6 separate regions of the Homo sapiens genome follow, and regions 1, 2, 3, 4 and 5 are each reported to be linked to region 6. Evidence: microRNA targets listed by miRTarBase, many of them from high-throughput screens and not tested one by one. Region 6 holds a microRNA gene; each other region holds the end of a gene's coding sequence.
The links. The annotated mature microRNA hsa-miR-20a-5p reads UAAAGUGCUUAUAGUGCAGGUAG and lies in region 6 at 1,848-1,870, shown strand. An mRNA with a match to its seed (bases 2 to 7 or 8) in the 3' UTR can be bound and repressed. Matches are read on the target gene's strand: a 7mer-m8 pairs with bases 2 to 8, a 7mer-A1 pairs with bases 2 to 7 and ends in A, and an 8mer does both.

Region 1: the mRNA of TLCD3A is a reported target of hsa-miR-20a-5p. Seed matches in the 3' UTR shown: 7mer-m8 at 508-514.
Region 2: the mRNA of LYPD6 is a reported target of hsa-miR-20a-5p. Seed matches in the 3' UTR shown: 8mer at 2,763-2,770.
Region 3: the mRNA of VPS50 is a reported target of hsa-miR-20a-5p. Seed matches in the 3' UTR shown: 7mer-m8 at 4,396-4,402, 7mer-m8 at 3,348-3,354 and 7mer-A1 at 2,304-2,310.
Region 4: miRTarBase lists CHAF1A as a target of hsa-miR-20a-5p. Seed matches in the 3' UTR shown: 7mer-m8 at 1,095-1,101.
Region 5: miRTarBase lists YTHDC1 as a target of hsa-miR-20a-5p. Seed matches in the 3' UTR shown: 7mer-A1 at 1,940-1,946, 8mer at 2,462-2,469 and 7mer-m8 at 2,834-2,840.

Annotation. Positions count from the first base shown.
Region 1 is chr17:741,240-746,307 of GRCh38, forward strand. It overlaps TLCD3A (TLC domain containing 3A), which reads left to right. Exons shown (of 5, transcript NM_024792.3): 5 at 62-1,729. The coding sequence ends at 331. GEMIN4 (gem nuclear organelle associated protein 4) reads right to left here. Exons shown (of 2, transcript NM_015721.3): 2 at 3,182-5,068. The coding sequence ends at 3,627. Among named protein-coding and RNA genes, the nearest start is that of GEMIN4, 8.5 kb to the right of the region's middle.
Region 2 is chr2:149,469,929-149,475,003 of GRCh38, forward strand. It overlaps LYPD6 (LY6/PLAUR domain containing 6), which reads left to right. Exons shown (of 5, transcript NM_194317.5): 5 at 755-4,210. The coding sequence ends at 922. Among named protein-coding and RNA genes, the nearest start is that of MMADHC-DT, 110 kb to the right of the region's middle.
Region 3 is chr7:93,358,117-93,363,191 of GRCh38, reverse strand. VPS50 (VPS50 subunit of EARP/GARPII complex) reads right to left here. Exons shown (of 28, transcript NM_017667.4): 28 at 2,069-4,875. The coding sequence ends at 4,756. Among named protein-coding and RNA genes, the nearest start is that of MIR653, 120 kb to the left of the region's middle.
Region 4 is chr19:4,442,015-4,447,089 of GRCh38, forward strand. It overlaps CHAF1A (chromatin assembly factor 1 subunit A), which reads left to right. Exons shown (of 15, transcript NM_005483.3): 14 at 231-327; 15 at 911-1,383. The coding sequence ends at 1,011. It overlaps UBXN6 (UBX domain protein 6), which reads right to left. Exons shown (of 11, transcript NM_025241.3): 7 at 4,822-4,906; 8 at 4,486-4,705; 9 at 4,269-4,399; 10 at 4,035-4,183; 11 at 2,992-3,609. The coding sequence ends at 3,484. MIR4746 (microRNA 4746) reads left to right here and starts at 3,964; the gene lies at 3,964-4,034. RefSeq lists silencers at 1,958-2,252, 2,362-2,530.
Region 5 is chr4:68,310,068-68,315,142 of GRCh38, reverse strand. It overlaps YTHDC1 (YTH N6-methyladenosine RNA binding protein C1), which reads left to right. Exons shown (of 17, transcript NM_001031732.4): 17 at 820-4,756. The coding sequence ends at 1,044. Among named protein-coding and RNA genes, the nearest start is that of YTHDC1, 37 kb to the left of the region's middle.
Region 6 is chr13:91,349,225-91,354,299 of GRCh38, forward strand. MIR20A (microRNA 20a) reads left to right here and starts at 1,841; the gene lies at 1,841-1,911. MIR17HG (miR-17-92a-1 cluster host gene) reads left to right here. Exons shown (of 3, transcript NR_197388.1): 2 at 474-546; 3 at 932-5,075. MIR17 (microRNA 17) reads left to right here and starts at 1,381; the gene lies at 1,381-1,464. It overlaps MIR18A (microRNA 18a), which reads left to right and starts at 1,527; the gene lies at 1,527-1,597. It also overlaps MIR19A, MIR19B1 and MIR92A1. RefSeq lists enhancers at 1-48, 49-596.

The sequences.
Region 1 (5,068 bases), not on the chromosome of region 6:
GTCGCTCCCTGATGCCCAGCTTCTTGGTGACCTTACCTTTTTCCTTCCTCTTCTATTGCAGCTAAAGCAGCAGCACACCCTTCTGTACAAGGTGAATGGAATCCTCACGCTGGCCACCTTCCTTTCCTGCCGGATCCTTCTCTTCCCCTTCATGTACTGGTCCTATGGCCGCCAGCAGGGACTAAGCCTGCTCCAAGTACCCTTCAGCATCCCATTCTACTGCAACGTGGCCAATGCCTTCCTCGTAGCTCCTCAGATCTACTGGTTCTGTCTGCTGTGCAGGAAGGCAGTCCGGCTCTTTGACACTCCCCAAGCCAAAAAGGATGGCTAAATGCTCCTGGGAGTCAGGCGCAGCCTCACACCAGCTGCCTCCTCCACTCAGCATTCCATGGACCAAATTGTGCCCTGGGTAGCCTCAGACTTTGGGTATTGATAAGCCGATGGATTTGAGTTTTTCTAAAGAATATTCATATTACCTCCTTCTTCTAACTTGCCCTATTTGCAAAAGCACTTTTGTAGTAACAACTATTGGGTCCTGTCAGACCTCCACGGACAGCAAAGTGGTTTTAATGCAAGCCCAAGGATCCTTCTTAAGGTCTTATCTCAAGAGCTCTGGGAGGTGGAAGCATGGGGTGGGATCGGTGGACCAGGGTGGTAAGTGTCTGCACATCTGCCTGTCCCTGTATCAGCGGCTACCCACCTTCCAAACCACTCAGGACAGTACCCGTGGCACTGGGCCCGCAGAAGCAAGGGATGACTTGGTTCTTGGAAGTAATGTCGTCTTGTGACATTGGCCTGGGACAATCATTGTGGGTAGGTAGTTATTGATCGTTTACTAGATAACCCATTGGTTCTTTGCCTCATCCTCTCATCCATGGGTCAGAGTTGAATTCTTATGTCTATAGACTTCCAATCAGAAGTCTCACTGGTGGGGCTGGGGGTGGGGGCAGGCAGGAGGCATGGATGGGAACCTGAGTAGGTAGTGTGGCCAAGAGATCAGCACAACCTTTGCAGGCTGACTTGCTAAGTCTGACAGTGACAAACTTGTGAGCTTACTGCAGTCAGTCACAGAGGCTGTTCTTTTTCACACACCCCTTCATGCCCGGCTTTCCCCATATCCACATGCAGAGGGCGAGCTCATAAAACTACAGGGAAGCGTGAAATGATGGCTTTGGTAGCTGTTTACTGGGTAACCCCACTGTGACACTGTCCTTTTCATGTGATGTGGAAACCTACTTCTGTCCTCCAAACCATGAAATGTGTCATCTAGACTGCAGAGTACTTGAGTGCTTTGCCTCCCGATATGCCAGAGCTTGTGGTCCAAAGCCCATTCCTGTGTGTCCGTCCTGCCATTTAGCCACAGAAGGCTGCGGAGTGAGGCGGCAGCTAGCCTGGCCAGTGGCTGTCCCGTGGACCGACACCTGCGCCCCCTTCTGCAAGCAGGATTTTCTGGTGCCAACACTCATTCATCATTCCCGATCAACTAGGATGAATTTAAGACTGTGCTACCATGTGTTCTCAAGTGGTAGTTTAAAAAGTGGATTTTTAAAGTGCCTTTCAATTGTCTGTGAACGTCTAAAGGACTGATTTGTCTCATTTTGACTGTTGAGTCTTTAATGGGTGCCATTTAAAAAACAAAATGCTATTTTTTAATTGTCTTTTTTTTTTAACTATCAGTGTATCTTTAAAAGTCACCCTTACGGTGATTAAATTGCACTAACATTCCCAACTTATTCTCATTTGTGAAATACATCAATATCAGTGTCCTGTAAGAATCATCCTGTGACCTAGCTCGACTGGCTGCCGTGTGCTGTGGCTCAAGGTCTGTGTCCATGTAACTAGCAGAGGGGTGTGTGTGTGAATGCTTTCAGCCTCCAGAAAGGTCTAGCTCACACCTCACTCAAACCTATTTTTGTGGTTCATGGTCTCAGTAATACATTGAAGGTTCCCAGAGTTCAAGCGTAGTGGTCACACGTAACTTGAGACCGTTTCTTCTCTTCATAAGTGAATCTTACTAGGAATTGGGAGAGTGGAAGACCGATTATTGGTCAGGGAGCCAAGCCTACTTTACCTGAGGAGAACCTGAGTAATGCCCCATTGTGAAGGAGGGTGTGGATATGGAGGGAGTGATGGGACATATTTTTTCCCCCTTTCATCTCACACATTAAACATGTCCCCAGCCAATTTTCATAGTTTCCTCATACCTCAGACACCTTAAACTCATTTTTTTTTCTTTTTGTAGAGACAGGTTATCTCTGTTGCCCAGGCTGGTCTCAAACTCCTGGCCTCAAGTGATCCTCCTGCCTCAGCCTCCCAAAGCACTGGGATTATTACAGGTGTGAGCCACCATGCCTAGCCCACTCTCAATTTTTTTTTTTTTTGTTTTAGACAGGGTCTCACTCTGTCACCAAGGCTGGAGTGCAGTGGTCTGATCTCAGCTTACTGCAGCCTCTACCTCCCAGGATCAAGTGAGCCTCCTGCTTTAGAACCCTGAGTAGCTGGGACTACAGCTGTGTGTCACCACACCTAGCTAATTTTTGTGGTTTTTTTTTTGTAGAGACAGGGCTTCCATATGTTGGCTGGTCTCAAGTGATCCTCCCGCCTCGGCCTCCCAAAGTGCTGAGATTACAGGTGTGAGTCACCGCACCTGGCCCAAACTCATTTTTTATGTTCCTGCACACATCATTCCCTTATCCAAACCATTCATTCATCCAAATCTTGACAACCCCTCCTGAGGCAAAAGCTAACGTGACCCATCCATTCAGCACATCTCTGCTGGGTTTGCCAGGTCTCGTCTTCACAGTAGCCCCTTTGGGGGTGACTGAATAGATGGAGTTAAGACTGTATGGGAAGTGGGTGTGCTTATTGTCCCAGCTACTCAGGAGGCTGAGGTGGGAGGATCACTTGAGTCCAGGGGTTCAAGGCTAGTCTGAGCAACAAAGACTGTACACACTCCTCAATTCAGAGGGGACCCATTTTCTTGAGGTCACTAACCTAGCCCCTCGCCACTGAGTTTATCTTGGTCCTCCAATCCTCTCATTTTAGAATTGTGCAGGCCTCTCGGGCACAGCAGTCTCATGGCCAGAGGCAGAGCCAGGGCTGGACTGGATTCTTTTCCAAGCTGCTGTCCTTTCCAAGATACCTCAAGAAAAAAACATTAAAAGACGAAATAACTCTTGAAGGGGGTTATACGTACCATGTAATGCTTTTTCCACTCACATGGTTTCAACTTTGGGCTTATTTGCCAAAATCTAGGATGGAAAAGTCCAGTTATGAACATGTTCCTCCTGGCTGGATTTGATCTTGAAGACACTAAACCCAATTTCAGAGCATATTTAATCCTGGGCTATTGCTGAGGCCGACTTAGAAGAGACAAAGTGAGATGCGAAAGAGGAGAATTTTTATGATAGTTTGTACGTTACAAATACCCAAGAAACTATTTTCTTTACACCATTATTGCCATGACTTTTTGTGGACAGTTTCACATAACTGTAAAGTCCAGGCTGCTCGGGTCTGACCCCTACAGACCTGCCATGTTGAAGCCCAGCTTTTTCGCTCCCGCACAGGTAAGAAGCTGCTGATCTTCTGCAGACCCGCCATGTTGGGGCCCAGCTCCCCACGCCAAGTCAGAAGCTGCTCATCTTCTGCAACAGGGTTTGGCGCCGTTCTTCAGGGCCGATGCCCTCAGCAATGGACTTTAAGAAGCGCTGCTCGTGTGCCCTCTGGAGCAAGGAGCTGACAGAAGGGTTGGTCTTGCTCAAAGTCTCATAGCAGGTGAGGGTTTCCAAGGCTAAAACGTAGAGTGGCTCACAGACCTCCGGGTGGAGCATGGCCATGATGTGCAGAGCATGGCAGAACACCTGGGTGTAAACAAACAGGGCTTCCTGGGTCAGGTCCTGCTCTGGTCCTTGAACCCAAGGGCCAGCTGCCTGTATCGCCCTGACTGAGTCCAGGAGGCGGGTCAGACTGCCACAGAGGAGTTTGACCACGTGGTTCCAGCCTTCCAGAGGAAGCCAATCACGACAGCTATGGCTGCAGAGAAACTGGAAAGTCCTCAGGAAGAGGACGGAGAGTTGCAACTCCTGGGCAAAGGGCTTCAGGTTGAGCAGGGGAACAAACTGAATATATTCCAGGCTATAAGGGACATGGAGGAGCTGCTTCTCCAGCAGTCTCCTGGTCAGCTGGTGAAGGCGCTGCCACTCCTGAGGGCTGCACCAAGGCATGACTTGCACCAGGGCCACCAGAAAGCCTTTGCTGAACAGTCTGACCTCCTCAGGATTGCCCACGTCCACCACCAAGAGAGACAGCATCCTCTCCGAGATGCCGCTGGAGACGCAGCAGCACTCCATCCAGGCCAGGAGCCCCGTGCCAGCCCCGTACCCTGGGTGGGCCTGGGAGGTCCACTCGTCTTCTGAAAGCTTACAGATCTCAAAAAGTGTGGCTGGCACTTCACACTTGAAGTGCCCCTCGAAGAAGCTCTTCAGCCTCAGGCCCACAGTCCAGTCTAGCTGTTCTAACTTGCGGTGGAGCCAGGACAGGGACTTGATCCAGACATCCGGGGAGAAGGTCTCAGCATTGGCTGATACAATCTCACACAGGAGCTCCAGGATATGGATCGCTAGATCCTTCCTATCCAAAGAGAGGCACCGCTTCTCCTTGGGAAGCTGCCAGTATTTGCTGAAGCGGTCCAAGAGCTGGCACAAGCTGAAGAGGAGTGGAAACGGGGAGCAGGTCTGGAGCCAGTATTCCTCTCGGCACGCGTTTGCCTCTAGAGTCTGGATGAAGATCCTCAGACTGAGGTCTACCTCTTCAACATCTAACCTCAAGAAAGGCAGGACAAATTCCTTCAGCACCTCGTCTGGCTCAAGAAGAGCAGCCACTGGAATCCCTTGGGGTTTCACGGGACTCATCAGGCAGTTCAGGAGCTCTAAAAATTGCTTTTCTTCCTTGGGTGTAGAGAACTTCATCCAGACGGTTTCTTTGAGGCATGACACCATGAAAGTGGCAGATGAATTGGGACCCTGCTCTTCCACAAACCTAAGGGCAGGGAAGGCAGTGAGAATCTGGG
Region 2 (5,075 bases), not on the chromosome of region 6:
TTAATAACCATCCTATGACTAGGAATCACCTGGGAATCTTGTTAAAATGTAGTCCTAATTCTTTGTCTGGGGCAAGGTTTGAGATTCTGCACTTGTAACAAACTCCCAGCTGATGTTGGAGCTGCTGGTCTGTACTTTGTGTAGCCATGCCCCAAGAAAGTTTTTGTCACTAACTCTGTGGGTTTATTTCTTTCTAATGATCCACGAGTAAGGTGGTGTAAAGCAGGAGTAACTGCATGAATGAAAACCCTTCAAACATTAACTCACCCAATGAGAATGGAGACACTTATGCAAACAGTTCTGTGAAAGTCAGTACTCAAGTTTAAACCACCCGGGTTGTTGCCACTTGACTCTCACTTGAAAACTTGGCAAACGAAGGCTTACCCTCTCTTCCTCAAGTAGTCAGAAAGAGCCTCATGGAAAAACACGGACGAGTTTCTTTATTCCCATTTTAAGGGCGAAAGAACTGAGGCCCAGGAAGGCTATACACCTTTGTAAGAATCGTATGGGTGGAGGGTGTCAAAAACAAAACCTAGCTCTCTTGAAGTTTGGCCTGGGGAGTTTTCATGTTGACCAGATTGCTTCTAGAAGAAATATTATCCCCAGCCTTCCTGAACGTAGAGTTGGCATCTCCTTTATAGATTAGGTAATTTTTACTTGCATCTTGCCATGTGGGCGACAGTGCCTTCAAAAACCCTGCCTCCTTCCAAGACATGCTGGCTTCTCATTATCTTTTTTTCTTCCTTTCTTTCAGGTCTGCACTTCTTGTTGTGAAGGAAATATCTGTAACTTGCCACTGCCCCGAAATGAAACTGATGCCACATTTGCCACGACGTCACCTATAAATCAGACAAATGGGCACCCACGCTGTATGTCAGTGATAGTGTCCTGCTTGTGGTTGTGGTTAGGGCTCATGTTATAGTGGCTCAGTGGCTCCATGTGTTAATAGCGATCCATGGGGATCTCGATGGTCCACAGACCTGCATGAGTCATTGGCCTGACAGTAATTACACATGTGAGACACAACACTCTTGGAGGTCATCACAGCCAAGCATTGCCACTTACCATGAGGAATAAATGTTGCTTCATTGTAGCCATTTTGAGTCTAACCGAGACTCATCAAAGCCTTCTGTCAGTACAGCCCAAGTTCCATACCATAAACGTTTGTTTTCATTCCAAGAAGTAGTTCTGCATTTATCGAGATCTGGGGTTCTTAATTTGGAAGAATACATGCATGAGATGCAGTAGGTCCTGAGACTGTAAGATATTAGGAGTATGTTATAGGGGCATGTATAGATGTGGGCTTTTCAGGAGAAAAGTAACCATTGGTTTAAATATAATCATGAGTTCATTTGTAGCTTTAGAATTTTAAAACATTGACTCCAAACTGAATGGACTATTTCCTTGGAAATTCTGACTGAGTCCCTGGAAGAGTAGTAATTCCAACAATTCCAGCCATTTGTTCAATTAATTTTCCCAACATTCTTCTCCCAGTGCTGGGAATCACATTTCCTCTGTTCTGTGCAGAAGACAAAAAGGCAATCATAAAAGTTTGTTATATTTGTGGGGGTGCCTGGAGGAGGATTTTCCTCAACTTAATGGAGCCACTGTCCATAAAGTGGCTGTTATCCCTTCATATAATTGGTGAGATCAGCCTTCTCCTTGACTTGGCACCTAATTATGCTTCATGAGATCCTAGATTCCACCTGAGTCAATTGTGTCCAGAGCCCCAAACCAGGATGGAGTTGTTTTCCCCAGATATGGGGTTCTATTCAGCCATAGATAATCTAGACAGAGGATTTCAGAATGAAAGGAAAAATGTGTGGAGATTAGTCCTAGTTCATTCTGAGGGCCGACTAAGTGGCTCAGCCAGCTTCTTACTCCATCTGCAGTTCATACTGCCAAAGAGCTCCCACTTCCAAATCCCCAGTGACTTTATGGAGAAGATTCTGCATTAAATTGTCTTTCGAATGATGGGGAAGCAAGGCATAATATGCGATGATGAGGAGAAAGTAGACCAGTGAGGTGATTGCAAGACTAACAAGGAGACTCAATGGGAAGTTTTTCTTTCTTTTAGATATTGCTTTTGAAGTAGATGGTAAAATTTTTGTCATCCTTCTTGTATTTTTTGTACCCCAAGTTACAATTTTTCTTCTTCCTTGTAAATAATTTAAACAGTATTTATTTTTGTAAGGCATAACTAGAAACTAAAATATATTCTAAAAAATTCATTATTCTGAACAAAGTGATCAAATTAGAATACATATTTTTCAACAGTGGTAGAGCTTTTAATATATGTTTATTGAAAGTTATCTATAATACTTGCACCAGTGTTGAAAAAAGTTAACATGTAGGCAAGAGCAATATGTTTGTCTCAAGGATTTTTCCATGGTTTCCTCAGTGATGGTGTCCTGGAATTATTCAGGTGGTGACCATCACTGGTCTAAGTTTGTGTGCAGGGTTTTCAGATGTGTTTTTGTGAAACTTGGTAGAACCATGGCTAATAAAGAGGACAGTGTTGTCAGGGTCCATCTGCCCTCCATAGAAAAATGTCTCTGGCTCATAAAATGAGACTCCCTCAGGGACTAAATATGAACTGACAGCAGTAACTCTGATACAGAATAATCTAAATTGCATCAAATGGCCTTAATTCAGAGTTTGTTAGGCTTATCAGTATGTTGCTTTTAATTGGGGTGGGAAAGTAGAGGGAGAGAAAGCAAGACATTTATTAAGCACCTCGTATGTGCCAGGCACTATGCTAAGCACTTTACATAAGTTAGGATTAATCCCTGCAAGAATCCTATAAAGAATGTTACTAGCATTTACACTTCCCAAATGAAGGTACCAAAGCTCAAACGCAATGTTGTGAAGCTGTTTCCTTCAGATTTAGGTTATGTGGGATGATGTGGGATTGAAGAGGAAAGAAAGGTGGGATTATCCCCCTAGGAAGACTTTCAGGCCTGACTTCATAGGAATTCATCCATCTTATCATGTGGAGTTTATCTCACCCTGCTGTTGCAGGATGCTATTTGCATGTGTCCCCAGGTGATGTTTTTTCTTTGGGGAGTAGGGGTTTGGCTTCCTCATTCATCCCTCTTGCTAAAAGAGGAGATAGTTGATGTTGCATCTAAAGATGCTATAAGACAATGAAAGTTTGATGTTGTACATACCTACAAGTACCATTTTTGTGCATGATTACACTCCACTGACATCTTCCAAGTACTGCATGTGATTGAATAAGAAACAAGAAAGTGACCACACCAAAGCCTCCCTGGCTGGTGTAGAGGGATCAGGTCCACAGTGGTGCAGATTCAACCACCACCCAGGGAGTGCTTGCAGACTCTGCATAGATGTTGCTGCATGTGTCCCATGTGCCTGTCAGAATGGCAGTGTTTAATTCTCTTGAAAGAAAGTTATTTGCTCACTATCCCCAGCCTCAAGGAGCCAAGGAAGAGTCATTCACATGGAAGGTCCGGGACTGGTCAGCCACTCTGACTTTTCTACCACATTAAATTCTCCATTACATCTCAATATTGGTAATGGCTTAAGTGTAAAGAGCCATGATGTGTATATTAAGCTATGTGCCACATATTTATTTTTAGACTCTCCACAGCATTCATGTCAATATGGGATTAATGCCTAAACTTTGTAAATATTGTACAGTTTGTAAATCAATGAATAAAGGTTTTGAGTGTATCTTACCAGGCTCCTCCCTGCAAATGCACATGTCAATCAATGATTAATGCACCCAGGTTATGTACAAGGCACTGGGCTTAGCACCACAGGGAACTTCCTTCCAGAGGCTTGCTTTCTAGTTGTGTAGACAAGAATACATGCATGAGAAGATACAAGACAATTCACCCATGCCAAATGATTCATACAGGCTGTTTAAGTACTGCAGAAAATAAAAGAAGGAAAGGCTACCAGACTTTTCAATAAGGTCTACAGCTTCCCAAGAGCATGTCTTTGTTAAATCAGGAAATATAAAAATTATGTGTGTATGTGTATGTATATATATATACCACCCTATTAACTATTTTAAAATCGTATTCTATTTTGGGGGTTGTGTTAATGATGATGAACCAGAAAAGATTTTCTCTTGATGGTTTCTTCAACAGGAAACAGATATTGGAATAGTGTACATGTCATTTTTATCTATACAATGAATTTATTATATTTTTCTTAGTAAAGTGATAGACATTGAAAGCAAGCTTGAAAAATGTCAGTTTGTTTGTGATTCCTGATTATTCTTCTCCTCCTCTTTTTTTTTGTTTCGTTTTTTTGAGACAGCAGGGTCTTGCTCTGTTGCCCAGGCTGGAATGCAGTGTCACCATCATGGCTCACTGGAGCCTCAAACTCCTGGGCTCAAGTGATATCCTCCTGCCTCAGCCTCCCGAGTAGCTGGGACTACAGTATAGGCATGTGCCACCACACCTGGCTAGGTTTTAATGAAATGTCTTGCAGAGACAGGATCCAACTATGTTGCCCAGCCTAGCCTCAAACTCTGAGGCTCAAGCAATCCTCCTACCTCAGCCTCCCAAAGTTCTGGGATTATAGGTGTGAGCCACTGCACCCAATCTCTGGTTATTTAATTACCTATGTTTTGAAATTTCCAGGGAAATCTTTTCCACAAACTTATATGTTTTCTCTTGGTCTGAATCAGTGACACAGTTGGTCACTGATGCTCCTTAAAGTGTGGTACTTACATGAAGATAGCTCTTATTGCTGATCTCCGTGGATAGTTCTGTCTTTAATGTAAGTGGTATTGCAGGTGGACTGTGCTTTTAGAAAATTTGATTTTGAAGATACAGACTTACATGTTTACTTAATGTGGGTTTTTTGTTTGTTTGTTTGTTTGAGACAGAGTCTCACTCTTGTCGCCAGGCTGCAGTACAATGGCATGATCTCACACTTACTGCAACTTCTGCCTCCTGGATGCAAGCAATTCTCCTGCCTCAGCCTCCCAGGTAGCTGGGATTACAGGTGTCTGCCACCACGCCCAGCTAATTTTTGTGTTTTTAGTAGAGACGGGGTTTCACCATGTTGGCCAGGATGGTCTCAATCTCCTGACCTCA
Region 3 (5,075 bases), not on the chromosome of region 6:
TTAAAGGAGTTACAATGTCCAAAGGTCCTGGTAGGTCCCTAGGTGGCAAGATGTTCTTATATTTGCTCTAGAAAACTGTCCCTCCAGCACAGTATCCTGGTCCTGTCTCACCTTTCATGGAAACAATGGCAAGGGGATGGGGGAGTAGTGCCTTTTTAAATTTTTTTACTTTCCTATGCCTGTAAGTTTTCTGCCTCCTAAAGAAATCTTGGCTTTACGTTATATTCTGATGACTCCCACATTGACATCTATAGCTCTGACCTCTTCTCTGAACTCCAGACTTGCATGCCGCTACCCTCTCCTACACATCCAATAATTTATCTCCAAGTATCTCAAACTTCCCTGTCCAAAACTGTTTTCTTGATCTTGTTCACAAACCCAGTCTTCCCAAAGACTTCTACTTCCTCCAGAAAGTCTTTAAGCACACTCTTTCCTCAAATACCAATCATTTTGTTTCTACCTTCAACATATGTCCAGCGTCTGACCACCCCTCACCATATCCCGCAATGCTACTGCAATCCTAGCCTCGCATGGTTTACCAAATTAGTTTCCTAGCTTGTTTCCTTGCTTTGCTTTTTGTCCCTCTCTAGCTCTTTCTCAAATACACAGAGTGGTTTTGGTAAACCCTAAGTCACAAATCAGGTCATCACTTGGTTCACAGCCCCTCAAATGCTTCCATCTGAAGGTGAAATCCAAAGTCCTTCCCCGTATGTGTCCCCTCCTGCCACATCCTCTCTGCTTTTACTTTCTTCTGCTTACTATGCCATCCACACTGCCCTCCTTGCTGTTCTCTGACAGCAGCCTCCACCCTGGGGCCTTTGCACTTGACATTCTCTCAGCCTGCTACACTCACTCAGACATCTGCATGGCAAGCCTCTTCCCTTCCTCTCAAGGGAGGCCTTCTGCCACCATCCTTGTTTAAGTTATACTACCATTGTGACCACCACCACTCCCTATTGATTTTTCTCCACAACATCTCTCCTTGGGAAGGATAAGTTTCATGGAAAGGATAGCATCTTGCTTGGGTGCTTAAAGGTGGGATTGTGATTAGGAAAGCAGGGATAACAGAAGTAAGGTAAGGCAGATAGCAGGTAGCCAGCAAAAATGGTCTCCCAGTGGTTACCTGATGGTGTCACTACACTTTAGCGTAGGCTCTAGTACTGAGTGGTGTCAAAATGGACACCCTGACTACAAAGTCCTTTCTTTTTGGGCAAAGATTAGCATGCTTGCTATTTGGTGTAGCTGGATTAAAATGCCCACATTGTGGAAATGCCTTTTCTTTAAAGCAGAAATCCTTTTGGTACCTAGGACTGGGAAGGAACAGAGTAAAACAAAAACTACTGATGAAGAAAATCCCTTTCCTGGATGGAAAGGCTTAGCTCAGTGTGAAAAAATACCTACAGGGCAAATTTGGAAATCCTCACCAGGGCCAGGTCTTCTCAGTCTTGGGATCAAAAAGTGATGTCTAAATTAACTTATAAAAATGGTTATCAAAAACACCAAAAAGAGTTCTATATTAATCATATCAATAAAGTACTAAAATTCCAGAGGGATCCTTCTAAGTGAACGAGAATATTTAGCTGTGGTTTTGTTTTCATATTGAAAAAATGATCTAAGTATACTTAGCAATATTCAAAAAGGATATGTCAATCAAGAAAAGCACATCAAAGCAAATGAATTATTTTTCTCCATTCATTTTGAAACAGCTAACAGTTCTCTTGTATAAATCTAACAGTTTTGTCCTTGTGAGAGCTGTGCTGCTTAAACTTTTTCATAGCCTTTACAAAGCTGTGGATGATAGGAATTGAGCAAATATTTTCCACAATAAGAAAAAATCTGTAGAAAGCTGCACCAGTCTTAACATTTACAAAGATTATACCAGACTATTAATAATTCTCATCATTAATCATTGTCAGAAGCTAAATATCATTTTGTTAACCACTAATCCGAATCAAAATTATTCCAAAAAGAAATATATATATAATATATATATATGTATATATATGGAAATCCCCCCCACCCTGTACTTCTATGTGCTTTGAGCACAACTTGTATTCATCAATTCATCTTCAGATCTAGTTTTTTATTACAAAAGACAACTATGCTTACAAGGTGAATTGAATTACAAGCCTTTTACTACTTTTTGGTGAGTTAAGAAAAAGCTATTTAATCTAACAAAGTTTCACTTTAGCACTCAGCTAAATAGAAATTTCGAAATTTTATTTAAAGATATGATAAAATACCATATGGCCCTGGTTTCAAGAGAAATTCATTTAATAAGTTGTGTAAATGAGTTTATTAGTTAAAGTGAACTTACAAAATCTCTGTTGGTTTTATAAACCAAAGCAAACTAGTTCATTTGAATTGCTATGTGCCCCCCTAGCATTTTTAAATGCAAGACAATGTATTTGTAGAAATGATCATTCTTTCTCAGGGAATGCTAATTTACCATGCTCCCATGGTAAATTCTACAGGAAACTTTCATGGAAAATGTCAAAGTTAAGGAAAGTTTAGACTCAAAAATAATAAATTTTTGGTAATGATAGTTTTTGGAACACGTATAATTCCATTTACATTCTCAGCTTTTCAATTGTATTTATCTGAAAATTAGTTTCATAAAATGTTACATGGTTATAACTCAATATTACTGTATAAAGTATTTGAGAAATGTCTGGTAACTCTCTTGTGATTAGGTAACTTCATGACTCAAACCTCCTGTTACTGTTTTGATGCTAGCTAGCACTTATTAAGCTACCTTTTAATGAAAAAAAAAAAAAAAAAAAACCTTTTTCAAAAAGCATTAAAAAGATCCACCATTTCATTTTGAAGATGGAGAAAGCAAAGTAAGGGTAGGTTAAAAGGTCTGTCAGATTGCATGGTCGAGTCTCTAACAAGATAAGTAATTCTTTTGTATCAATTCCTATTACCTTGGAAAACACTGGGCTCTACCAGGCAGGTGATTCCTGTTCATATTATCTAGGGCCAACTAAAGTAGAAATTAAAGGAAACCAACTATAAAATCCATGTAGAAGAGAAAAATAAGCAGCTCTTCATCAACTGCAAATTTTAAAAGATTGATTAGCTCTTTATGTGCCCAGCTAAATATGCCATTTAAACTCAAGGACCAAGCTTATCTCATGTTTGTTTTCTTCAAGTGGCTGCATATAAATAATGGCTACAGGCAGAATCTACTTCACAAGTATATAATCTAGCCACAACCAAATCATAATGGCACCAAACTCATACCTTTTTACAAGAGGAAAGTTTTAAATTGACAGTAAATGAACTCCGACATGAGAGGATGAAAAGAAAACACTCAGCATACAGACACACACAAACATATTCTGAAAGTGCTTCACATTACACTGTGCATTTACAGACATCGCAGGGACTGATGGACACAGAGTAGCAATTGTTTCCTTATCACCTCCATGCTTGATCACATGCCATTCTGTGCCATCCATTTTATCACCTTAGGTCCCAGAAGACTCATAAGACCCAAGGCCTGTTTCTCACATGATTCCTTAGGATTCTGTGAGCTGTTGATGTTACAGGTCATGCATGGCAATCATTGGACCAATGCCACACAAGCTTAGATGTCCTCCACTCTCCAGTCAGAAAGAACACACACAAAATTCCTTATCAGACAGTTGGCAAGAGTACATGGAAAATGGATTTTTATGTCACATACATTAGGAGAAGATCCCTGGCTTCAGGGCAAAGTTTAGAGGAACAGCACATACTTACTGAAGACTAAGTGGATTCCAGAGTTCATCATTGGCTAGACTGATACTATTTTACATTTGTGTTATAAAAGGTGGATATTTAAGAAGAGTGAACATATGACCGTACATTTATGAGTGACTAGCAGACAACTGTTTCCTGAGTCAGTCAACCTGGGTTTTACTGTCCTAAGACAAAATCTGAATTTAAAGAGACCAAAACTTTCAACAAAAAAACCACATATTTTTATAAAGAAAGATAAAAGAAAGTCTCATAATCATGATTCTGTATGCTACTCAGGCATTGAAAAGGTACCCTCAATGAAATTACTTTTCACCATTGGTTTCAGGATATAAAACAATTAAAATTAGAACACACTAAAAGCTGCACTATAGTTCATGACATCTGCATGCCACACAAAAAATCAAAATGTAGTCTCACATAGGCTGATCATACTAGAGTATATTTATTAAATTTCACCATTATGATCACTTTGTTATAACTAAATTAACCCTGACATAAACTTTGACATTTTAAAAACAGAGAACATACTGATTTTTCAACTATTTTACTTACATGTGTTTTTTAATTCTCATGCAGTGCTCATAATTAGGAGATACTACATATTCACCCTCACATTATGCTTATTAAGAACCAAGCTCAGAGGGTAGAAAAGTGCCAACTTCATTTTCCATAAACTTCCCATACATATATTAAGCCACTGTTCTTCTAATTATATACTTATGGTACATTCTTCTGTAAAATGTATAACTGTAGTCACATAACCATTGTTATGACAAGGCGGCAACATCATTTCAGATTACAACAAATGAGACCAAAAGTTGAAGAGACCACAGCATATAAAAGTCATGAGAACACCACACACATTTCAATATTTTCCACTTTCCAGTCAAAAAAACATGCACAAAGTTTTCTTAGCAGATAGTTGTCAGAAGTGCATAAAAAAACTGGCTTTCAGGTCATATATGTTGAGTGAGGATCAATGCCATTGAGGAAAGAGAGCTGTGTTCATTATCTTTTAGGTCTGTCTATATCATCTATAGCTGCTAGAAGTTTTTGTCTTGCTTTCTTATTGATATGGGATCCCAGGCAAACATTCACCAGATTGGTCAGCTGCTTCGTTGAATATTCCTGCTCAAAGAAGAAAGATCCAAATTTAGTACCCTAAAAGGAATGTATCTGATCAGTGCAACAAAAGAACAGGCGGATATTCAGGTGCAGTGGATAGTTACTGAGCATTATAAACCAGTGAAAAACAGTGGAAATTACAGTTGGGACATGGAAGGCAAATTGTTTACTGAGCTGTAATAGGAGAGAATAAGAATACTATA
Region 4 (5,075 bases), not on the chromosome of region 6:
TCTGAATCCAGTTCATTTGAGGGAACCCCCAAGGTTCTCTGGTTGTGGCCTCTTGAATAAACCTCTCACATTTGGACAGTTTGTTACCAAATTGGGTTCTGGATGTTGGTTTCCTTCCGTGTTGGGGGTGGGAGGAAGGTGTCACACCTGTGGAGTTCCCCCCGCTACCGCACTGGCACCAGGGTGGCTGCTGCCTGCAGTGCTGATGGCCGTGTACCCTGTCTGTCCAGATTGGTGCTGAAGACATGGACGGCTTCCAGGCAGACACGGAGGAGGAGGAAGAGGAGGAGGGCGACTGTATGATCGTGGATGTCCCGGATGCTGCGGGTGAGAAGGGCTGTAGATAGCAGAACGCACTGGTGAGGTGGGCGCTGGAGGTAAACCTCAACAGAGAAGGGATGGGGCTGCCTAAGACTAGCTCCACTGTGAGCAGCCAGGAGGGCTTGCAGCTGGAAGTGGCTCCTGCCCTGCCACATCCTCGGGCGGGCTGGGCCGTGGGTGCTGACCATGCCAGGCATCGTTCTGGCCGCAGAGCCACAAGGGCCTATGCTGGGAGTCTCAGGTGGTTGTGACGTTAGATGGGGGTCAGGGAAGGCTGCACTGAGGCAGCAAGGGAGGGCCAGGTGGATTTCTGGAGCACTCGCCAAAGAGGAAGTACAGAGGCCCTGCAGCAGGCTGCGTGGGAGGAGTGTGCCCGGGTGGTGGGGGGCAGGCAGGGTCAACCTGAGAGCAGGTGAGCAGGTCACCTCTAGAAGAGGCACAACGCCCCAGCCTCTGCCTGTCCCCACTGTCAGGTGGAGGGTCCCGCCCTGGGGTTGTTGCAGGCCCCATGAGGCAGCAGGGTGGGGTCTTCCCCCAGGGAGCCCAGAGGGCCCAGCCAGCTCAAGACCCTCCCTCTCTTGCCCTGCAGAGGTCCAAGCCCCGTGTGGAGCCGCTTCCGGAGCTGGGGGTGGTGTGGGGGTGGACACCGGCAAGGCCACCCTGACCGCGAGCCCACTGGGTGCATCCTGAGAGCAGGGGTGACGTATGTAGAATGCTTAGGGTGTCCTCCCCACAGAGCAGATACTTGAACCGACTCAATTCCTGTGTAAAGAGCACTTTGTCCTGCTTCACGGACCTCCCCAAAGTGTGCAGAGTTCTATATAGGATGCTGGATTAGTTCCTTTGATATTTGTAAAAATTCCCCCAAGAGCCGCATATGAATCTGCCCTTTAATAAAGCATTATTGAGATTGCTGGCCTATTGGGGAAGCCTGCGGGCACAGGAGCAGGCGTGGAATCCAATACTTGTAAATGAATTGAAGCGTCAGGACCACCCGCCTGGCCACGTGCGCGGGCCCCTGGACCTAACGAGGCAGTGTATAAACTTATTCTCTAGCCCTGAGCTGCTCTGTCTGTCTTTTCCGAAAACATTGTGTTTCTCTGAGAGTGCACCTTGCCCATGGCCCGGCCCCATGTGGTGCCTGGTGTCTGGGGCCAGCCTTGTGCCCTGCAACAGCACCGTCCCATCTGTTTGTCACTAAGTCACCCTCATACCAGGCTGACCTGGGTCAAGGTGCGGGTTTTTCCGCACGTGCTTCTGTCCGGCGATCCCTCCTGCCCTGGGTTGGGGGGTTAGGAGAGGGTGTTCCCAGAGACCTGCTAGGGTCACCTCCCTGAACCCGGAGCTGCTGGGAGCCGAGTTTGGCTTCGAGTCTGAGGCTTTGTGAGAGCCCACCCCAGGTCAGGTGCATCTTTTGCGAGTGCTGGAGCTAGAAGGTGACCTCCTCCCCGCCCCAGGTTGAGTGGGCTTTATCCACACTGTCCGAGGGAGGACAGGCGACAGCCGCTGTGGTACTGAGCAGCTCAGAGCACACGCAGCCACGGGGAGGGTCACGCTCGCCAGTCCTGCTCTTCCCAGCCACACCCCACCTGAAGTCCTAAGCTTCCCTTCAGGGAACCCTATGTGGGAAAAGTGTCAGCTACCTCCATCCACCCAGTCAGGGACGGCAGGGCGCCCGGGCCAGGCCTTCCTGCTGGGAAGCAGGATTCAGCTGTGCCTGAAGCAGAGGCTGCCCCTGTGCCACACCTTTGATGAGCTTTACAGGGGCTCCCGACAACCCGGAATCAGGTCCTGGGGCCTGCAGGACGCAGGACTGGAGTGACAGCCTCCATTCTCAACAGGCCGGGTGCCCACACCAGCTGGGGCAGTGCCGGGGGCGAGGGAGGGACCAATGCAAGGTCAGGGGCACGAGCATAGGCCCCGGGCACCTCCCCCAGGTGCAGACCTGCATCCCCAAGTCAGCAGTGGGGCCGGGGCACACATGCCTTCCACACTGCAGGGCAGAGTCCCTGTGTCTCCTGGGGCTGCTGTACCACAAACCTGGTGGCTTAAAGCAAGTCACCATCTCACAGCTTGGGGGTCAGAGTGCACACATGCCCCGCCAGGCTAACATCAAGCTGTGGGCAGGACCAGGCCCTCCTGGAGAGTTTCCCAGTGCTCGGAGGCGCTGCATCCCTCAGCTCGGGGTCCCTTCCTCCACCTTCACAGCCATGCGCAGCCTCTTCCAGTCTCTCTCTGATTCACCCTCCTGCCACCTCTTGTGAGGACACTGGGTCCCGGACCACCCAGGATCATCTCCCAGCTCAAGACCTTTCATCATACCCAAGCCCCTCTTGCCAGGTGAAGTTGCGCATCTGCAGGTTCCAGGAATAGGATGTGGCCGTCTCAGGACACCCTGTCCCTCTGGCCACAGGGAAGCCAGGCCTGTGACAGCACTCGCCTCCCCTGCAGGGACTGGGCCTTTGTGGGCACAGCACAGCCTCCCCTAGCGCACGGGACTTCCTCCCCAGGTGGGTGGCTCATCGGGCACTTGTGGCCAGGTGCTGGCCTGAGAACAGGTATCCACATGGTCCCACCTTGACAGGGAGCCACACCCAGCCCCCAAGCCATCCGCTCTTCAGCAGGTGGGCCTGCCCTGTGTCCCACGGTTTCAACGGAGAACCAAGAAACTATATTCAAACAACCTGTTTATTTGGGCTTATGATTTACTAACTGCAGGTCTATGTGCAGGAAGGCCAGCATCCCCTCCTGCCGTTGTCACCCACATCCACAGAGCAGCCCTAGTGCCAGGTGCAGCCACTGCCACCCACGGCACACGGGAACAGGACCCATGCTGCAGGCCTGCTCTCCTGCCCAGGGAGATGCCACGTGTGTCTGTCCGGCAGCTTCATGACACAGTTACCAAGCAGCTAGGGAGGGCTTAGATTTGTTGGTGTCCCCAGGCCTCTCCCTCGGGGGCTTGGGCGCATCCCCACAGCCCCCAAGGGATGGGGGCTCTGCCACGGGGCCCAATTCCACAGCTCCACGGCTGGCGCCCCTCCCGTGCCCATGGGGCAGAGCCAAGTATTTCCAGAGGTGGCTTGGAGGCCCTGGGGTGGCGGGGAGAGGAACAGGGAGAGCATGAGACAGACCCACAGGGCTGAGGCCAACCCTGCTTTTATTTCACAAGAGCTTCTCGATGGCTGACAGGAGCTCGGGTTTCAGGATGGAGTCCGGCTCGGCCCCCGCGGCCTTGATGTCCTCCAGCACAGCCATGTCCCACGAGAAGGTCAGGAGGGCAGAGGGCACCTGCGGTAGGGGTAGGCCGTCACTCTGAGACCGAGAGTCGGCCCTTGCCGCGGCAGGGAACTCAGCGGGCAACCTGGGCGCGGGGATGCCCCGGCCTGGAAGCCATCTCAGCTGGTGGAGGCTGTGGCTCGCACCCAGGCCTCCTGCCCTCTCCCTCCGGGACTCCAGGACCTAAGCCTAAACCTACTGCACTAGCTAACGCACGTCACCGCTCCCATTTGATGGGGAAACTGAGGCGTGGAGTAGTTATGAACTTGCTCGAGGCCCTGCTGCCAGTAAGTGGGAAAGCAGGATTCAAACCCAGGGACCTGCCCAGGCCCCCTGCTCTGAGAACAAGGAGGCTCCCTCCTGGGGGTGTCTGTGCCGGTCCCAGGAGAACCTGCAGAGGCATCGGGTCAGCGGTGCTCCTGCGGGCCGACACTCACCAGCCCGCACTCGTTCAAGGCCAGGTTCTCGTCCTCGGACAGCTTCTGCCCTCCCGAGGCCAGCAGCTCAAAAGGCAGCCAGTCGCTCTGCAGGGCCTCCCGGACGAACCCGTACACCGCCCCCAGCCGCTCCCGAGCGTAGAAAGTGCCTGGGGAGTGGGGGAGTCAGAGCGGGTGGGGCCCAGGGCCCCCTACCAACCCGAGCCGCCCTCCACGGGCATCGTTGGTGCCCACCCTGCAGGAGGCAGCCATCGGGGAGGCGCACGCGCAGCAGCGTGTAGTTGTACTTGCGCAGCCCCCGCTGCTCCTCCTTCTCCCGCATGGCCTTGGTCCGCAGCACGCTCAGCCGCTCCACCGCCTCGGACCTGCACACGCGGGCCAGGTCACGAGGGCTGGCCGGGGTTCTTCCACCCCGCCCCGCCCCACTCTGCTCCGCGGACGTCAGGCCCACCTGAGCCTCTGCTCCCGCTTGATCTCCTCTGCTGTGAGGTTGAAGAAGTCCCCAGGCAGTTCGAACTGCGAGGCCAGGGGCGAGGGCTGGAAGACGCGGCGCTGCCTGTCCAGCTTGGCGCGCACGGGCTCCGCAGCCAGCAGCTGTTCCTTGTGCCTCTCCAGGCTCTGGGGCTGGGCCAAGGTGGTCTCGCTCAGCACGTAGAACTCCTCGGGGTCCTCTACAGCGTGGCAGGACATGGGTGTCACTGTGCAATGGAGAGACCCCCAAGCCGGGCCCTCCTGCCCCGAGGCCCCTCGTCCCCATTCCCTACTCAGCCAGGCCCTGTCCACTTACCCTGATCCTGGGCGGGAAGCAACACCTTCTGGAACCCAATGGCCTCAAAAAACTCGTGGGTCCCTTCCAGGCAGTTAATGCGCTCCTGGGGGTGGAGATGGGCGTCACTGGGGGCCCCTGGCTTCCTCCATGGCCTGGCCACACCCCACCCAGTCCAGGGGCCCGGCTCTCGCTATTGGGAGCAGCTGTCGACCCCTGGATGGGGCCCAGCCCTGGGGGTGCCTCAGTGCTGGATGCAAACCTGCTTTTCTACG
Region 5 (5,075 bases), not on the chromosome of region 6:
TCTTAAAAATTCCCATAACTGATCACATGGCTTTTAAAATAGGAAGTCTGAGATTTTTTTGTTTTCCTCAACTATATCCTTTTTAACAAGTTCTATTTTATGGATCTTTATGTAGTGATTTTTTGGTTAGTATACATATTCTCTACTTACATAATCACATATATAAAAGGTAATGTGGGACTGTGTTTTCAAATCTTATTTCAGCTAAGTTTTGAGAGAAGACCAAAATCAGTAAGGTAAGCTGAGAACTAAGAGTAGAAAGTTTAAACTAGAGCAGGGGCCAAGTTTAGGAGCAGCCACAACTTTTCTTGCACATCAACTTAGTTGTAACAATTTAGTTTGAAAGAAAATCTGGAACATAATACTCAGTTTGTAAAATTGAAGTTGGTAGAATTGGAGGAAAAATGTAGAGCTAGCCTGTGCCAGAAAAACATTGATGACATTTAGCATAATTGGCAGTATATATGGATAATAGTTGAAGGTCATCACTAGTTAATATCTTTGGCCTAAATCTTACTGAAGGGATCAGATGGAAAAGTCATTAAAGTTAAGTGGAAAACTGCATAAAGAGATTTGAATAATCTGTTGTAGATGTCTAATGAGGCATCATCCTTTTTCTAAACCATGTCAGCATATTACCTTCTGTGAATTAATTTATTATTGCATTTCTTTGGATTGTTCTCTCCGCCGATTATAATACAGAGACTTTTCTTTTTTTATATTTTAAAATTGTTTATATAAATTTTTTTTTCAAATCAGGGATCCACTTAACACTATTTGCCTTTTTGACATACCTAACACATTTCTTTCCTTTTCTAGCATGATTATGATATGAGGGTGGATGATTTCCTTCGTCGCACACAAGCTGTTGTCAGTGGCCGGAGAAGTAGACCCCGTGAAAGAGACCGGGAACGAGAGCGAGACCGCCCTAGAGATAACAGACGAGACAGAGAGCGAGATAGAGGACGTGATAGAGAAAGAGAAAGAGAGCGATTATGTGATCGAGACAGAGACCGAGGGGAGAGAGGTCGATATAGAAGATAATGGGCTTTTGGAAGCACTGATTGTTTAAAGATACAAAAAATCTTGTATTTTTTTTTTGTGTGTGTTTACAAGTAGTAAATTTATTTTCAGCTGTCTGCCTATGAAGTTCATTGTGTAGAAGGATTTATTATGACCCCCTTTGTTCCAAGCATGCAGTATCATAAGAACTGGAAAAACTCAAATCCGCCAAAAATCCACAGCTGACAGTTGAATTGACACTTTTATTGGGGCAGAATGGAACAGTCCAAGAATGTAGATACTGATTCTTTCTCCATAAATGTTCTTATAGTGTGTTCATCCTAGAGTTATTTTTTTGTTTGTTTTTTTCCTTTTTGGATCTTGATTGATAACTGCCATGATATTTTGCTTTGATGTGTTTCTACATGTAGTTGCACACGGTTCAGTAAAAATAATGCTGCTATCGAGTATGCAAATATTGAAGTATGATGGTTTGACTGTATGGCAGTGTTGTAGCAGCCTCTTGTTTTTTTCCCCATTGCCTCTTTTTTTAAAAAACTTATAAAGTCACTTTTTATTTTTCCTCAGTCTTCAATGACGAGAGCAATATTAAGAAGACATTGCTATCTAATTTTTAATCTTTTTAAATGAAAAATTCCTATGTTCAGTAGCGTGGTTGATGCTATTGTTTAGCCTTCCCCTCCAAATTGTATACATTGGCTTGGAATGTTCACAACTTGCGTGCGTGGCAGCGGAAGACGATTCCCATATTCTACATTGCTACTGTTTTGTATAAAATAAATTGGTAAAGATTGACGGTTATCTTTTGTATCTTTTTCTTATCCAATTGCAGGTTTGTTTTATTATGCAATAATGGACATAAAAGCATGCTTTTTGTTCAGGAATTTTAGGAACCCCATTTGCTTTTTTTGAGGCACACTTTAGCAGAAATGATTGACCTAGGCCTGTTGCATTAAAAGCTTACTTCTATTTCTAACATAAGATACACAGAGTTATGTTAATAATTTGGTTAAGTATTTATACACCTGATAACATTTTGAGTCTACTCTGATCACAGAATCGTTTATTTAGGTTTTCTATTTGTTGTTTTAGTCTTCTGTAAGTGAACGACTTTGTACATGCTTTCTACTTTACTTCATAAATGGACTTTTAACCCTCTTGTATTAGTTCTGTATTTTAAGTTAACTGTCCAGTTCTCCCAGTGGTAACCAACTATAACATAGAAATAGAGCCGCTCAAGAAAACAGTTTATGAAATAATTTTTTTGAATTTTTTCTTGAGTTACACCTGGAGTTTTGGCCTTTGGAATTTGGCCTTTATAAACATTAGGAATATTTGAATGTTTGATTTTTTTATAGTATCAACAGTTGTACTGTGTACCAGATCACATAGTACAGTTTTACATTTAATCTATATTGGCCTGAAAAGAACAACACAGGCACTTTACTCTTAAAGGATATAATAAACTATAGTTATACTGCATTCATATTCATACCAGCATGTAGTATCTTTCCCTGCATTCACAGAAGTTTTATTTACAATGACAAAACTAAAGCCTGAGGATTTGTTTTAAATCTGCATTGTGGTAGAGAGGAAAAAGTACTTTTAAGGAAACCTGGGTTCTAGTTTTGTCATTGTCTTTAATTAAACCGGTTAGTGATACATGGTAAGTCACTTCATTGGCATTTTGTGTATTCATCAGTAAGCTAGACAAGATGATAGCTACAGTTTAAGAATTTCTGTAACCATTATACAAAACTGGTAGGTAATATTAAAGGTATTTTCCTGAAATAATAGGAATAAATACTGAGCACTTTGTATGCAATAGAGACTTTGTGCTTTTATATACAGACTCATTTAAATGGGCTCAGAGAGGCTAGTAAACTTGCCCAAGATTAGAAAGGTAGTAATTGATGGGCCAAGATTTTACCCATGTTTTTATTTGGTGTTTCTAAACCACCTCATCACTTTTGAAAAAACAGTATATAAATTAATAAATGTTTTGGAGATGGAGTCTGTCGCCCAGGTGGAGGGCAGTGGCATGATCTTGGCTCACTGCAACCTCCTGCCTCAGCCTCCCGAATGGCTGGGACTACAGGCACCCACCACCACACCCCGCTAATTTTTGTAATTTTAGTAGAGATGGGGTTCCAACATGTTGGCCAGGCTGGTCTCAAACTCGACCTCAAGTGACCTCACCTGCCTCAGCCTCCTAAAGTGTTGGGATTACAGGCGTGAGCCACTGCACCTGGCCTGAGATTTTTAAACATTAACATTTCCTTCAGGCTTAAGCAGAGGATTTTTCTAAAGTGCCATCCAATTAGATGTTAAGTTATGCTTTGTATGTTGAGCTTAGTATTGAGTCGATCTATTTTAAAAAGCCAACATTAAGTTTTTACCAAGTATCTGGCACTATTCTAAACAATTCTGTTGGCTCACATAATCATCACTGTTTTCTCCTTTCCTAATTTTTAAAATAAACTTACCGGAACATTGTATAAAAAATGCAAGATTTTTTTCTGTACAGAAGAGTCAGTATATAAAAATCAGTATGTTTTATTTAATATTCGTACACATGACAGCTTTTGTCACTGTGAGAAGACATGGTTTCTTTCGTGTACTCCACTGTGCTGTGATTCTAACAATCTACATTAGTATGATGTGTTCAGATGAAAAACAGAAAATTCAGTCATTCCGAGTTTAGAAATCCGGTCAGGGATTTTATTGGCTGGAGTAATAGTTCAAAGGAGTGAAAATTCAAGCATGTAATTTTTGGATTTGATTTCCTCCATAATGATTTCCTCCATAATGGCTTTTTTTCAAGCATGGTCTAATTTTTCAGAAAATGGCCATTATCTCCAAGCTTCCATTGTCCATGTAGTTTCAGTGGCAGGAGAGAGACTATTTTCCTCCCAGTGTCCATGTCAGTTCCCCAAAAGGACTGAATAGCCATGTTGGTTTTGGAGCCAGCCGTAATCCAATCTGTATTTCCAAGGAAATGGGGTTCTTTGTCTCCCAGCATTGGGAAGCAAGAGAGGCACATGTTATGGTCACCTCTGTGAGGATTACATCAGGAAGGACAGTCTCCAAAAGACATGGACAGAGGAAATTTAGCAGATGTCCATTAAATCAGGATCTCATACAAGTTATAACACCTGAATGTTTGACTTTTCAGAGTATTTTGCCATCACAGGTGTGGCATCTTGCCCTTGGATATATCTACATTCTGCTGTAGAATGTCGTGGTCTTTCTGAGGGTCACATACATCCTGTCTTGTCATAATGTTAACCATTAAGAGTCCTCAGGGGCATGGAATTGAAGAAGGAACTGTTGCCAGCAGTTAACTGACCAAGCTAGAGTTCCCTGACCCAACGTAAGGGTGACTGTGACACACATGGATAATTTTAGCTTCATGTTTAAGATTTTGTTATTTGGGTAGGAAACATTCCAAATGCAGTTTGAAACACATATTAAAATTGAGGCACACAGGAAAGAACTGGCTCAAGTTTAGTCCCCAAGTTCCTTATAGTAGGAATAGGAATCCTTAGAGTATAAGCAATCCATGCATAGTATTCTGTTATCTATCATGTAGATCATTTAATCTCTAATTTTTTGGGGTGGGGATTCTCTTGTTTCTAAATCTTACACTTTCAGTTTCTTCTGTGTCTTAAATATAGATTATTGACTATTGTCTTAAATACTAATAAATACATTAAATGTATCTTAAATACTACTATGTCTTAAACACAGACTATTGACTATTAAATATTTTCATTTGTAACCTTCATACTGGAGATTTGAAAGACAGTCAAAAATAATAGCTCTGAAAAGCTAAGGAATATACAATGTAAAAAAATGTAAGACTGGGTGCAGTGGCTCACGCCTGTAATCCCAACACTTTGGGAGGCCAAGATGGGTGGATCACCTGAGGTCAGGCATTCAAGACCATCCTGGCCAACATAGTGACACCCCTCCTCTACTAAAAACACAAAAATTAGTGGGGCATGGTGGCGCATGCCTGTAATCCCAGGTACTCAAGAGGCTGAGGCAGG
Region 6 (5,075 bases):
CTGAAAAAGGCAGGCTCGTCGTTGCAATATCACCAAAAGAGAAAATTAACGGCATGCCATCAGGACCACAGCAGTTGGAGAAACAACTCTTTATCCCGGCTTGCAGCCACGAGGTCTTGATTGGGGGAGGGGTGGTGAAGAATAGTCTGTGGGCTGCTTTTTTTTTTTCCTTTTACTGGAGCTGTACAGTGGAGTCGGTGATTGCTGCTGATCATAATCAAGTATTTTAGGAGCTTATTTAGACATGTATCTGATAGCTAAGGATTTTTCAACTTTATTCTCTTACGTATTTTTCAACTGTAAATTATTGGGCTTTTAAATCCTGCTAGTATTGCTCGACTCTTACTCTCACAAATGGATGGAATTAATTGCTGTTAGGAGGTTGGAAAATAGCAAATATAGATTTGGACGGTGGTAGTAATTTTGAGCAAATAATGTTTTATCTTTTTTTTCCTTATTTTTCCCTATTCCAGTCATACACGTGGACCTAACTGCACCAGTAGCTTTTCTGAGAATACTTGCTGAAAAGGAAGTTTTCTGGAATGGGTAAGTGTATTCTGATTTTCTTGAACTTTTCTTAAAAACAAATTTTTCTTGCTATTAAAGTTGAATAAATAGGATTGGTTTCTTAGAGAGTAAAAGTAGGTGTTTCTTTCTTTAGACAATGTACCTTTTCTGAAAAACTAACTCATTAAGTACGGATTTGCTAATTTTAAGGTAGTAAAATTACAGTGTAAATATTCCTGTACATTTTTGGAAACTGGCTTATGCAGTTTACGAAATATAATTTTAGACCCTCTTTTAAGTTGGGTGATAAAGTAGATATAACCTGAGATGATAGATTTAAACAGGATATTTACGTTCTGCTACAATTGACTGATAACACTTGAAGTGTAGTCTGAACAGTAATTTTGTTAATCATTTCAACAAGTATTTGCTAAGTGGAAGCCAGAAGAGGAGGAAAATGTTTTGCCACGTGGATGTGAAGATTTCCTCTAAAAGGTACACATGGACTAAATTGCCTTTAAATGTTCCAAAATTAGTTCTCATTTATTTGCAGTCTCATTTTGTTTTGTTTTTTTTCTCTATGTGTCAATCCATTTGGGAGAGGCCAGCCATTGGAAGAGCCACCACTTCCAGTGCTAGTTGGATGGTTGGTTATGATTGCCTTCTGTAAAGAATTCTTAAGGCATAAATACGTGTCTAAATGGACCTCATATCTTTGAGATAATTAAACTAATTTTTTCTTCCCCATTAGGGATTATGCTGAATTTGTATGGTTTATAGTTGTTAGAGTTTGAGGTGTTAATTCTAATTATCTATTTCAAATTTAGCAGGAAAAAAGAGAACATCACCTTGTAAAACTGAAGATTGTGACCAGTCAGAATAATGTCAAAGTGCTTACAGTGCAGGTAGTGATATGTGCATCTACTGCAGTGAAGGCACTTGTAGCATTATGGTGACAGCTGCCTCGGGAAGCCAAGTTGGGCTTTAAAGTGCAGGGCCTGCTGATGTTGAGTGCTTTTTGTTCTAAGGTGCATCTAGTGCAGATAGTGAAGTAGATTAGCATCTACTGCCCTAAGTGCTCCTTCTGGCATAAGAAGTTATGTATTCATCCAATAATTCAAGCCAAGCAAGTATATAGGTGTTTTAATAGTTTTTGTTTGCAGTCCTCTGTTAGTTTTGCATAGTTGCACTACAAGAAGAATGTAGTTGTGCAAATCTATGCAAAACTGATGGTGGCCTGCTATTTCCTTCAAATGAATGATTTTTACTAATTTTGTGTACTTTTATTGTGTCGATGTAGAATCTGCCTGGTCTATCTGATGTGACAGCTTCTGTAGCACTAAAGTGCTTATAGTGCAGGTAGTGTTTAGTTATCTACTGCATTATGAGCACTTAAAGTACTGCTAGCTGTAGAACTCCAGCTTCGGCCTGTCGCCCAATCAAACTGTCCTGTTACTGAACACTGTTCTATGGTTAGTTTTGCAGGTTTGCATCCAGCTGTGTGATATTCTGCTGTGCAAATCCATGCAAAACTGACTGTGGTAGTGAAAAGTCTGTAGAAAAGTAAGGGAAACTCAAACCCCTTTCTACACAGGTTGGGATCGGTTGCAATGCTGTGTTTCTGTATGGTATTGCACTTGTCCCGGCCTGTTGAGTTTGGTGGGGATTGTGACCAGAAGATTTTGAAAATTAAATATTACTGAAGATTTCGACTTCCACTGTTAAATGTACAAGATACATGAAATATTAAAGAAAATGTGTAACTTTTTGTGTAAATACATCTTGTCTTGTTTTCATTCAAAAACATTTCACTTTTGGGGTTGCGTGTCAGATTTGGCAGTATAAATTCTGGCTATATTTTTTGTTGTTAGATTTATTTGGCTGTTAAGTATTGCGATATGACTAAACATACTGTATACCTGATGATCATCTGTAAAGTTAGAGTATATCTTTTTGCTTTCTTTGGAGTTAGTGTTATTCCAGGATATTTTACTTAATCTAAAAGTTAATTTATGTTGCTCATATATTACTCAAGTATTTAAATTTAGAGAGAATGCCGCTCTGTTTAAAGCAATGTGTAAAGATGAGTTTTTTTAAGCATGGAATTTAGGGTTGGGGTACAATTTGTTTCTATTAAGCAAGTACCAGTTTACCAATACATGAGTAACTGAAGTGTAACTGTTAAATGCTTGTATACTAGTTTTTCTTTCTGATTGTCAGTGATTTATAAGCTATAAATGACCAAGGTCCTCAGACTGCTTTTAGCATCTGCAACTTAAAAAAATGGGAGTTAGAAAAAGAACAAATGCTAAATAGAGTAACAGTTAAATGTATGTGTACACTCTTCCCAAATGCCAAGAGTGCAGCGGTGGGGTGAGATTCAGATATTCATTTATTTCTAAGTCTGTAGTTAACATTTATGTTCCCTACTCCCTACGTAAGCCAGACTTTGGCAACAGTGATAGTTGATTCCAGGCTTATTTGACTTAAAGTCACTGAAGTGGAAACTAAGAAGTGGCAGTTAGTGTTTTACCCAGCATTTCTGCCTTCTCTCTTTTCTTCATGTGTTTTTGTCTCTAGCCTATGTGTATTTGTGTAGAATAATGTGGGATACCTGAATAATAGATTTAAAAGGACCAAGTGGTAAAATTGGGCCCAAGCTGAAGTACAGGCAAACTTGATGTTTGAAAGATAAGTTTTGAGAAATGTCATTGTATTTTGGAGTAAAAGAGGCTATCTTAGTAATAAGAAATAAACTTCCATAACACTAGGTTAGACCACCCAATAAATCTAGAAATCAGCTTTTAAAAATATTGTCTGAAGTCTAACAAAAGTTTTCACCTCTAATGTGTTCTTTAAGAAATTTAAGGAACTTAGCCTTGGATTCCTGAATAGAAAGGTAAGAATTCTATCATTCTGGAGTTGATGAAAACATAAATTTTCAGGATGTGAAATGAACAGTGATTTATAAAATGGAAATCAAATTGTACATTAGCAGAGTTCTTAAGCTTTTTGAATTGAAGGAGACCTAATAATTGTGTCTTTTTGGTTATTTAGTGACAAACGTGGCTTTCAAACTATGCTTAAAAAGTTCCGGCTGGACACGGTGGCTCACACCTATAATCCTAGCACTTGGGGAGGCTGAGGCAGACGGATTACCTGAGGTCAGGAGTTCGAGACCAACCTGGCCGACATGGTGAAACGCTGTCTCTACTAAAAATATAAAAAATTAGCCGGGTGCAGTGGCGTGCACCTGTAATCCCAGCTACTCTGGAGGCTGAGGCAGGAGAATCACCTGAACCTGGGAGGTGGAGGTTTCAGTGAGCTGAGATCCTGCCACTGCACTCCAGCCTGGGCGCAAGACCAAGACTTAAACGCAAAAAAAAAAAAAAAAAAAAAAAAAAAGTTTCATAATACAGCATGGTCTGGTAGTTTGCAAAATGGTGTGCTTTTGGGGAGATACACTAGCAATTTTTTTAAAAACTGGAACAGTGTGATAGGAAGCCTGCTGGATGATTTCTTAAATATTCTAAAATGTAAGTCAAATATGTTTTAATAACAAAGACTTAAATGGCTTTTCTCCCTAGAGACTGAAACTAGTATTCATTGTGTTCAGAACTTAATTGGGCTTGAACTGAGATTTAAATCTAATAAACAAGTTAATAAATGTGTATGTTTTGTTGTGGGTTTGGTAGTGATCTGTGGTTCTATAGGGTTTAATAGGAATTGCTTTTGATTTGTTTCTGGCTTTAGAATGTGAGGCAAATTTTACATTCTTGGTTCTATTAAGATTTTCTTAGGCATGCTAACATGCCAACAAAAAGCCATGTAAGTATTGTATAAAAAGATTCACATTGTTAATTTAGCCATTTTGAAATTCAGATGAGTGAGCAAGTTGATAATGGCCTCATCTCTGACCTGAGAAAAAACAACTTTGACCCTTGTTCTTAAAATGCTTTAACCTTGAAGTTGCTTGAGACTTAAGAGGTCATGTTGCTTTAGGTTTAATAAATAGCCTTAACTATTTGGAGGGGAAAAAATGGGTCAACTTTTTTTTTTTTTTTTGGCGTTTGCATGTACAACTTTCTATTTTTAGCCTATATTTGGAAAGAAAGCACTTAACATTTTAGGAATTCTTTTTAAAGCTGCTTGCAAAGTGTTGGTGATTTTACTGAAAACTTTTGAGATCTTCATTTTACAGGCAGACCTGTCTAACTACAAGCCAGACTTGGGTTTTCTCCTGTAGTTTGAAGACACACTGACTCCTGACAAAATGCAGCCTGCAACTTCCTGGAGAACAACTCAGTGTCACATTAAAGTTTATTATGTATTTAATGATACACTGTTTAATTGACAGTTTTGCATAGTTTGTCTAACTTTAGAGAATTAAGAGCCTCTCAACTGAGCAGTAAAGGTAAGGAGAGCTCAATCTGCACAGAGCCAGTTTTTAGTGTTTGATGGAAATAAGATCATCATGCCCACTTGAGACTTCAGATTATTCTTTAGCTTAGTGGTTGTATGAGTTACATCTTATTAAAGTCGAAATTAATGTAGTTTTCTGCCTTGAT